Linked DNA regions of Homo sapiens. The protein of the gene in region 2 interacts with the protein of the main gene of each other region in a pairwise test. Each region holds a gene or a part of one and is shown on either strand. Other genes may lie near its edges. The genes, in order: FOLH1, MTAP and RELB.

Region 1 (2,664 bases), on a different chromosome or scaffold from region 2:
TAGCTTTGATATATTAGAACTTTTATCACAGAATGATGCTCACTCTACAAGCTTGAATCTGAGAAACTCAGATGTAGCTAATGAAAAACTAATGAAAAATATAAAGTAAGAGAATTATAGAAACTTAAAAAAAAACTGTTACATTCCATTTGGACTACTAGCCATGTGTTCCACAAACATTTTCTATTTTATATAATTGCCTATCTCATTGTCTTAACAACATGAAGACTAAGATGTGAAAGGGGGATTAAGCATGTGGTAAGAGTTATACTGGGGGCAGCTAACCCAAGGGAGATCAGATGTGGCTTCAGATTCCACATACACAGCTACATTTCCTCACTGAGGCAGAGCAAGTTAATCCAGAAAGTCATATCAGGCTCCAAGAACGCTGTACTTAAACCATTCTGAAAATCACTTGAAACGATATAATTTTAAGTAACTTTTAGACTTAAATCTGGATCATTATACCGAGAGATCAATTTAATTTGTTTGGTAGTTTGTTCATTTTCACCCTGTTAATTCCACAGAGGACTCGTCATTTACATTAGGTATACCTCCCAATGCTATCCTTCCCCCCTCACCCCACCCCACGACAGGCCCTGGTGTGTGATGTTCCCCACCCTGTGTCCAAGTGTTCTCATTGTTCAATTCCCACCTATGAGTGAGATAACGGGTGCAGCACACCAACATGGCACATGTATACATGTGTAACAAACCTGCACGTTGTGCACATGTACCCTCGAACTTAAAAGTATAATAATAAAAAAAAATTCCACAAAGGAGGAGGGCCGACTTTTCACATACATGTGTCCTCCTTGCAGGACTTGAGTATGCACAAATTTTGGTGTAGAGGGTGGTCCTGAAACCAATCCCCGGAGATAACTAAATTCAGTTTTGTTCTGAAATTTTTATTTTCTGAGTAGAAACATATTTTCATGAAGTTATAATTATATTCATTTTCTTTCTCAGCCCAATAGTATTAAGAATGATGAATGATCAACTCATGTTTCTGGAAAGAGCATTTATTGATCCATTAGGGTTACCAGACAGGCCTTTTTATAGGTAAGAAAAGAAAATATGACTCCTTTCTGTAATATCACTTTTTCTTCTAATTATTTTTATTTTTTTCACTGTGGAAAAAATATTGTAGTTGATTTCTTGCAAGCAAATAGAAAATTTCAAAATATATGTAGTAAGTGATAGTTGTATTGTTTCTTCATATAATGTAATATGATTTTTGCATATCTTTATTTTGAGTATCTTTGTTCTGATTATAAAAGAATATAAATTTATTTTAGAAAATATAGAAGATCCAGAAAGCCATGACAAAAAATAAAAATCTCCCCAATTTTATCAGAAAAATATAAAATCATTGTTATATTCTGGTGTGTATAATTTTAGCTCCTTTTCTATTTTAAATATATTTTTACTTATGTATACACAGAACCCAAACATCTCTCTATATATAATGTATATAATAAATATATATTTATTTATTCTTTTCCCTAATGTTGATATTTAGATATTTTATTTCCTCCTAAATCCTGACAGTTGGATTTTTTTCTGCCAAACATTGACTGTCCCCAGGTTGATCTTCTAAATATTGCAGAATGAGATAGATCATTGGACAGCCAGAAATGGCCCTAACTTTCTTTCTAGGGATTATCAAAGGGTCGGGCTTGGGAGTAAGAGCATCTTCCAAGCAGGTTGACTGGATCAGATCACCAGTAGCAGCATATTTTTATCCATCCCCCACCCCCCCTTTTTTTCCTAAGAGACAGGGTCCCACTCTGTCTCCCAGGCTAGAGTTCAGTTGTGCAATTTTAGCTCACTGCAGCCTCAGACTTTTGGGCTCAACCAATCTTCCTGCAGCAGCCTCCAAAGAAGCTAGGACTACAGTCACATGCCACCATGCCCAGCTAATATTTGTACGTTCATTTGTAGCGACAGGGTGTCCCTATGTTGCGCAGGCTCGTCTAGAACTCCTGGCCTCAAGCAATCCTCCCACCTTGGCCTCCCTAATATATGGGATTACAGGCATGAGCTACTGCTTCTGGCCTTATTTACATCTTTACTATGGAGTTTGTCCTTCTCTTCTGTGGGCTATTACATGAACTGTCATAGCCCATTCTATAAAACATTTTCTGCCTTGGTCACATGGAACATTACAAAATTGTTTTTGATGATTCTTCAAACTCTATATTAAGTATTCTAACATGGTAGTGTGACTTTTTAAAAAAAGACAAAAAAAAAACCACAATAGAGGGTTGGCTGATCACAAGCAAGACTGTAATGATTACAATTGTGCTATAATATAGGGGGTAGCATGATATATTAAAAAATCAGCAGTTACTTGTCGTGTGCCTTGAGACAAATCATTTAGTTACTTGATCTCTCAGACCTCAGTTTCCTTCTCTGTGAAATACTAATATCAACTGTGTAGAGTTTATTTCTAAACATCAGAAAAATTGCAAGTAAACATTAAATACCAAGAATGATTGCTGTGGTTACTATCATCATTGTTAGTTTTGTAGCACTGAACCACTTTAATTTATTTGTTTGAAATAAAAATATAATTAATTACTATAGATTTCATATAATAGTCTTCAGAGATGATTGAACTTGGAAGTTCAGTTGACAAGTGGCTTGTTCAAATTGTTATAG
Region 2 (3,659 bases):
CCATGGCCCCACATCATGTCCCCTTTTCTCTCCCTCTGCTTCTATCATTATATCACTTTCTTCCTCATTTGACCTTCTTGCCTCCTTGTGATTTCATTTAGGTCCCACCCAGGTAATCTAGGATAATCTCCCCATCTCAAGATCCTGGATTTAATCATATTTGAGGTAACATTCCCAGGTTCTGGGAATTAGGATGTAGCTAGGATCTCTTGGGACAGGGGCATTGTTCAGCTTGCCACACTCAGCCCACGTTTTAAAAATTTATGGTCTAGGGGCCGGGCGCGGTGGCTCATGCCTGTAATCCCAGCACTTTGGGAGGCTGAGGCGGGCGGATCACAAGATCCGAAGATTGAGACCATCCTGGCTAACATGGTGAAACCCCGTCTCTACTAAAAATACAAAAAATTAGCCGGGCACGGTGGCAGCCTCCTGTCATCCCAGCTACTTGGGAGACTAAGGCAGGAGAATGGTGTGAAACTGGGAGGCGGAGCTTGCAGTGAGCCGAGATCGCACCACTGCACTCCAGCCTGGGCGACAGAGTGAGACTCCGTCTCAAAAAAAAAAAAAAGAAAGAAATTTATGGTCTAGGCCCTAGAGCAGGTTGCTTAGTTCTGAGGGCACTTTAGAACCACCTGCGGAGCTTTAAAAACAAACTACGCCTTGCCCAACTAATCAGAATCCCTGAGGCCTGGGCTTTGGTATTGAAAGCTAGAGAAGGGGAATGTCCTAGTATCCAGCAGCTGGTTCAGGAGGGTGGGTGGCTCCCACTGTTGCTCCACAGGCAAAGGAGAGCTCTAACAAAGTATGCATTAGGGAGAGTCCTCCTCTAAAAATATCTGGCCATTTCAGCAGGTGAAGTGTGTCTTTAAGAGGGTGTCTGCCCTTTAGACTGATATCTGTACTTCTCAAGGGGCATTTGCTCAAATAAAAACCATGGATGTTTTGAGCGCTTGCATCATCCAAGCTTCTCTGACTAAAATATAGAGTCACTGTATTAGTTCGCTAGGCCTGCTATAACAAAGCACTACAGAATGGGTAGCTTATGCAACAGAAGCATTATCTCCTCACAGCGCTGGAGGTTAGAAGTCCAAGATCAAGGTGAGATCAAGGTGGATTTCTTGTAAGGTCAGTCTGCTTGGCTTGTACATGGCAATGTTCTCCATTTGTCTTCACAGGGTCTTCCCTCTGTATGTGGTTATATCCCAATCTCTTGTAAGGACAACAGTTTTCTTAGTCTGTTTTCTGTTGCTATAACAGAATACCTGAGACAGGGTAATTTATAAAGAGAAGAGGTTTATTTAAAAGAAATGAAAGGGAGACGAGGGAGATAGGAAAAGGAAACAAAAAAGAGACAAACTTTGCTTCATAACAACCCACTCTCACTGGAACTAATCCAACCCAATGAGAGCAAGAACACCCTCCCCTGGGACTGCATGAATCCCTTAATTGGGGTGGATTATTACCATGGCTCATGACTCAAACTCCTCTTAAAGGTACTACCTCCCAGCATCACTATATTTGGGGACCAAGCCTCAACATGAGTTTTGAAGATGACCACATTCAAACCATAACATGAGGTATACTGCATTAGGGCCCATCCCAGTGACCTCATTTGATCTGAATTACCTCTTTAAAAACGGCAAATACAGTCACATTCTGAGGTACTGAGAGTTGGAACTTCAACCTATGAACTTAGGGGAGATACAATTCCATCCATAACCATTACCTACAAGGGTGGCCTACAGAGGGGGTGTCTTGTCAGAGATGGAGACCCCAGCTATCCCTGTGGACCCTATTGCAGGTTTTTAACAGTCCTCACAGCCTGAGACAGTTGGTTGCTCCCTCTCATACAGCTAGGCTTCCAGGATTTTGCAAGGCCCTGACAGGCCTCAAAGCCATGTCAGCCTAATAATGAGGGCCTCCGTCTGCTGTGCTTGCCAAAATTGTTATGGCAACCAGAGCTAAAGGACTGCAGTGCTCAGATCGGGCTGTGCCAGCTCCAGCTCTGGCTCGCTTACCTTATCGTGAGCTTGAGGCACTCAGAGGCAGCCCATCTCCCTGGCATGAGCTAGTCTCAACCGCTTGGGGTGATGGTATTTTGAAAATGCCATTATAGAGTGCTGGGTTCCTTACGGCAGTGTGCCCAGGCCTCAAAGTGATGGTGAATGGTTTCTGGGACAAAGAAGGGTTGGTAAAATCTCCTGTAGCCAGGTACTAGAAGAAATAGACAGAGTAGGGGTTACTATGCACCCTTTCCACATTGCTAGAAGTAACTGTTCTGACCAGGTGAACTGGTATTTGGATAAATGCTTTCACAGTCTCAGAGAAGTCAGACCCTTGGATTGATTTGCTCTTGAACAAAAAAATTTTTTTTTTCACTGTGAAAATGCTTTCTTTGGGGTGTCTTTAGAACATGTGATGTCAAGACACAACAGCAAGCGCACATACACTAAGACATGGCTGTCATAGAACAGATTGTGCGTGAATAAAGGGTTCACACCACTTCCACCCTTTACACAGTAACAGAAGGCTCTAGGCCACCTACCTCCTCCTTGGCTCACTCAAACTCTTCCTCCTCAGCCGTGGCCTCCTGCTACTGCTGGTACTCAGACACCAGGTCGTTCATGTTGCTTTCAGCCTCGGTGAATTCCATCTCATCCATGCCCTCGCCCGTGTACCAGTACAGGAAAGCTTTGCACCGAAGTATACCTGTGAACTGCTCTGAGATGCCCTTGATCAGATCCTAGATAGCAGTGTTGTTGCCAGTGAAGGTGGCCGGACATCTTTAGCCCTGAGGGTGGGAAGTCACACACAGCTGTTTTTATATCTTGGGGGATCCAACCAACAAAGTAGCTGCTGTTCATATTTTGGGCATTAAGCATGTGCATGTCCACCTCCTTCATGGACATGTGGCCCCTGAACATGGCAGCTACCATTACGTAGCAACCATGGCAGAGGTTGCAGGCAGCCATCATATTCTTGGCATCAAAGAACTGCCAAGTGGGCTCACGCACCATGAGGGCCCAGTACTGCTGGTTGTCCCAGCTGGTCAGCAGGGGGAAGCCATACATGAAGTGCAGGTGGGGGAACAGGACCATGTTTGCGGCCAGCTTCTGCAAGTCAGCATTGAGTTGGCCAGGGAAATGCAGACAGATGGTGACCCCACTCATGGCTGCAGACACCAGGTGGTTCAAGTCACTGTAGGTAGGTGTGGGCAGCTTTAGGGTTCTGAGGCAGATGTCATAGAGAGCTTTATTTATTATCATTGCAGAAGGTCTAGTTTTGAGAAGTTTGGTTTGATGGTCAGTCCGTGGAAAAGTGTGGCATGAGCCACTAGCTTTTAAAATCTGTCAAGGACCTTGATTGACTCCCTATTTCAGAACTCTATCTTGTGTAATAAAGAAGTCCTGGCTGGGCAGAAATTCCATCTCAGGTCTTGAACACATTTCCTACACAGTCTAGAATTAACTGGACTGAGGACTGACGCTTCCTGCCCAGGAGGCCTGGCAAGGTCTTGTCATTGTTTCCTGAGGGTGGATGAGGTCATTAAGAAAGAGTTTTCCTCCCCTCTGAGATGATTCACTCAGATACCTGGAGTCACTGTTTCTGTGCTTGTTCTGTGACCTTCGTCATGAACTTGACCTCTCTGAGCATGTTGT
Region 3 (3,273 bases), on a different chromosome or scaffold from region 2:
TTGGCCAGGATGGTCTCTCTCTCTTCACCTCGTGATCTACCTGCCTTGGCCTCCCAAAGTGCTGGGATTACAGGCGTAAGCCACAGTGCCAGGCCTGTTTTGTTGTTGTTGTTGTTGTTGTTTTGAGAAGGGTCTCATTCTGTTGCTCAGGCTAAAGTGCAGTGGTGCAATCTTGGCTCACTGCAACCTTCACCTCCTGGGTTCAAGTGATTTGTCTGCCTCAGCCTCCAAGTAGCTGGGACTACAGGTGTGCACCACCACACTCGGCTAATTTTTGTATTTTTAGTAGAAACAGGGTTTTACCACGTTGGCCAGGCTGGTCTCAAACTCCTGGACTGAAGCAGTCCACCTGCCTCAGCCTCCCAAAGTGCTGAGATTACAGGCATGAGCCACTTTCAGTCCCTACAGACTATGTATGTGAGACAAGAAATAACGTTCTATCCTGTTGAAGCCCCTGTTATTTTGGGTTTTGCTGTAAATGCAGTTAAATGTGATCATAGGTGGGATGCAGTGGCTCATGCCTGTAATCCCAGCACTTTGGGAGGCTGAGGCAAGCAGATCACCTGAGGTCAGGAGTTCAGGACCAGCCTGGCCAATGTGGTAAAACACCGTCTCTACTAAAAAATACAAAAATTAGCCAGGTGTGGTGGTGTATGCCTTTAGTCCCAGCTACTTGGGAGCCTGAAGCAGGAGAATCGCTTGAACTCAGGAGGCAGAAGTTGCAGTGAGCTGAGATCATGCCACTGCACTGCAGTCTGGGCGACAGAGCGAGACTCCATCTCCAAAAAAAAAAAAAAAGAAAGAAGAAATAGATCAAATTTTAAAACACCACTGAGCTAAGTATGTACTGGGCCTTTTCAAAGGAGTCCCTGAGGCTCTGAGAGGTAGAACAACTTAATGAAGTTCACATAGCAAGGAAATGGCCCAGAAGAGATCAGAACTTCCATTCTGTCTCCAAAGCCCTCATTCTTTCTACTCTATGTTGCTGGCTAAGTGCTGAGTGACTCGCCTTGTGGCTGCTCTTGGAGGGCGTGAAGAGGCCAGAAAAGCAGGGCTGCCACTTACCCTCTGCCCACCCAGGGGACAGGGGCTTATGTGTAGCTGGGACCCACCTGAGCCGTGGTTGGGCAGGAAGTGGTCCAGGATGGCCGGCTTTTTCTTCCGCCGTTTGCTCTCGATGCCATGGGGGTCTGAGGGAAGGCAGAGATGAGGACCCCTGTTCCCCGACAGCCCTTCCTCCCCAGCCTGGGGTGGGACAGGGCAGTGGGGTCAGCTGTCCCCTCCCCAGAACCTGGGGATGGGGGTGGAAAGGGGCAGAGGGCACACACCAGAGCTGTTCAGCTCCCCAAGGACGTCGGGCATCCCCCGTTTCCGCTTCTTGTCCACGCCGTAGCTGTCTGTTAAGGAGATACCAGGGACACACAAGAAGTAATTCATCAATAATAATTAATTCCTTTATTTATTTATTTATTTATTTATTTTTAGAGACAGTCTTGCTCTGTTGACCAGGCTGGAGTGCAGTGGCACGGTCTTGGCTCACTGCAACCTCTGCCTGCCAGGTTCAAGTGATTCTCCTGCCTCAGCTTCCCAAGTAGGAGGGATTACAGGTGTGCGCCACCACGCCCAGCTAATTTTTGTATTTTTTTAGTAGAGATGGGATTTCACTATATGTTGGCCAGTCTGGTCTTGAACTCCTGACCTCAAGTGATCTGCCTGCCTTGGCCTCCCGAAGTGTTGGGATTACAGGTGTGAGCTGCTGTGCCAGGCCTATTTTTTTTTTTTTTAAAGATGGAGTCTTGGCTGGGCGTGGTGGCTCACTCCTGCAATCCCAGCACTTTGGGAGGCTGAAGTGGGCGGATCACCTGAGGTCAGGAGTCCGAGACCAGCCTGACCAACACGGCGAAACCCGGTCTCTACTAAAAATACTAAAATTAGCCGGGCATGGTGGCGGGTGCCTGTAGTGAGTCTTGCTCTGTTGCCCAGGCTGGAGTGCAATGGCACAATCTTGGCTCACTGCAACCTCTGCCTCCCGGGTTCAAGCAATTCTCCTGCCTCAGCCTCCCGAGTAGCTGGGACTATAGGCGCCCACCACCACGCCCGGCTAATTTTTGTATTTTTAGTAGAGACGGGGTTTCGCCATGTTGTTCAGGCTGGTCTCGAACTCCTAACCTCAGGTGATCCGCCTGCCTCAGCCTCCCACAGTGCTGTGATTACAGGCATGAGCCACTGCGCCCGGCCTACACACTGGCCTCTTTGTTGTTCCTGGAGCACCCCAGGCACAATCCGGCCTCAGGACCTTTGCACCTGCTGTTCCAGCTGTTTAAAGCACTCTTCCTCCACTCTCACTATTTCCCTAGAAAACTTCCCTGCTTAGTCATCCTCCTGTCCTCAGCTCAGCTGTCCCCTCCTCCAAGAAGCATTCCCTGACACCTACAGCTGGGTCAGGTACCCCCTCTGGGCAATGTGAGCCCTTGAGCACTTCATTCCAGTCCTGCCCACTCTGGTCATCACTCTGTAGGGACAGGCTGTCCCCTATCCTCAGGACTATAAGCCTCATGAGGACACAGCTAGGGGCCGTGCTGGTCACTGCTGTGTCTCTAGCAATACCGAGCACAGGCCCGGGCATGTGCAGGATGCTGAGGGGAGGAAAGATTAAATACTCTCCAAATGTCACAGGACAGCTACTATTATTTCCATTTTGCACAGAAGAATGAGGCTCAGAGAGGCCAAGGTCACACAACCAGTAAGCAGCAGAGCCAGGATCTGAACACTGTCTTTGTAGCTCTGAGCCTGCATTCTAGTTCTGCCTCTTTCCCATCCCCACTGGGGTCTCCCCAAGGCCAAAGACCTAGTCTCCGAGGTGGTGGGTCACCCTGGGTTGCTGTAGTTACCATGGTCGCGAGGCAGGTACGTGAAAGGCAATGGCTCGCTGCAGACCCCATCGGTGAGCCGCTGCAGGAAGACGTTGACTGTCACGGGCTCGACAATCTCCAGGTCCTCGTAGGGCGGCGTCTTGAACACAATGGCAATCTGGCGGTGCACGTCGGCCTGGGAGAAGTCAGCCCGACCTTCCCAGGAGGCCCTGCTGAACACCACTGATATGTCCTCTGGCAGGAAACGGGGGACATCAGCTAAGCCAGGACATCTGGACCACTGTGCTCCCAACTTGCCCAGCCTCCCCTAAAATCAAGACTAATATTCCCCCTTTTTAAAATTTTTTTTTTTTGAGAGTCTTGCTCTGTTGCCCAGGCTGGAGTGCAATGGCGCGATCTC

The links.
Region 1: the proteins of MTAP (region 2) and FOLH1 interact in a two-hybrid assay, tested with the Homo sapiens proteins (one large-scale study listed by BioGRID and IntAct).
Region 3: the proteins of MTAP (region 2) and RELB interact in a two-hybrid assay, tested with the Homo sapiens proteins (one large-scale study listed by BioGRID and IntAct).

Annotation. Positions count from the first base shown.
Region 1 is NC_000011.10:49,147,037-49,149,700, reverse strand, and holds part of FOLH1 (glutamate carboxypeptidase 2), read left to right. Parts: intron 1-969; coding exon 970-1,062; intron 1,063-2,664. UniProt on the Homo sapiens protein: Has both folate hydrolase and N-acetylated-alpha-linked-acidic dipeptidase (NAALADase) activity. Has a preference for tri-alpha-glutamate peptides. In the intestine, required for the uptake of folate.
Region 2 is NC_000009.12:21,809,085-21,812,743, forward strand, and holds part of MTAP (S-methyl-5'-thioadenosine phosphorylase), read left to right. Parts: intron 1-2,404; exon of another isoform or gene 2,405-3,278; intron 3,279-3,659. UniProt on the Homo sapiens protein: Catalyzes the reversible phosphorylation of S-methyl-5'-thioadenosine (MTA) to adenine and 5-methylthioribose-1-phosphate. Involved in the breakdown of MTA, a major by-product of polyamine biosynthesis.
Region 3 is NC_000019.10:45,032,368-45,035,640, reverse strand, and holds part of RELB (transcription factor RelB), read right to left. Parts: intron 3,108-3,273; coding exon 2,892-3,107; intron 1,398-2,891; coding exon 1,329-1,397; intron 1,191-1,328; coding exon 1,113-1,190; intron 1-1,112.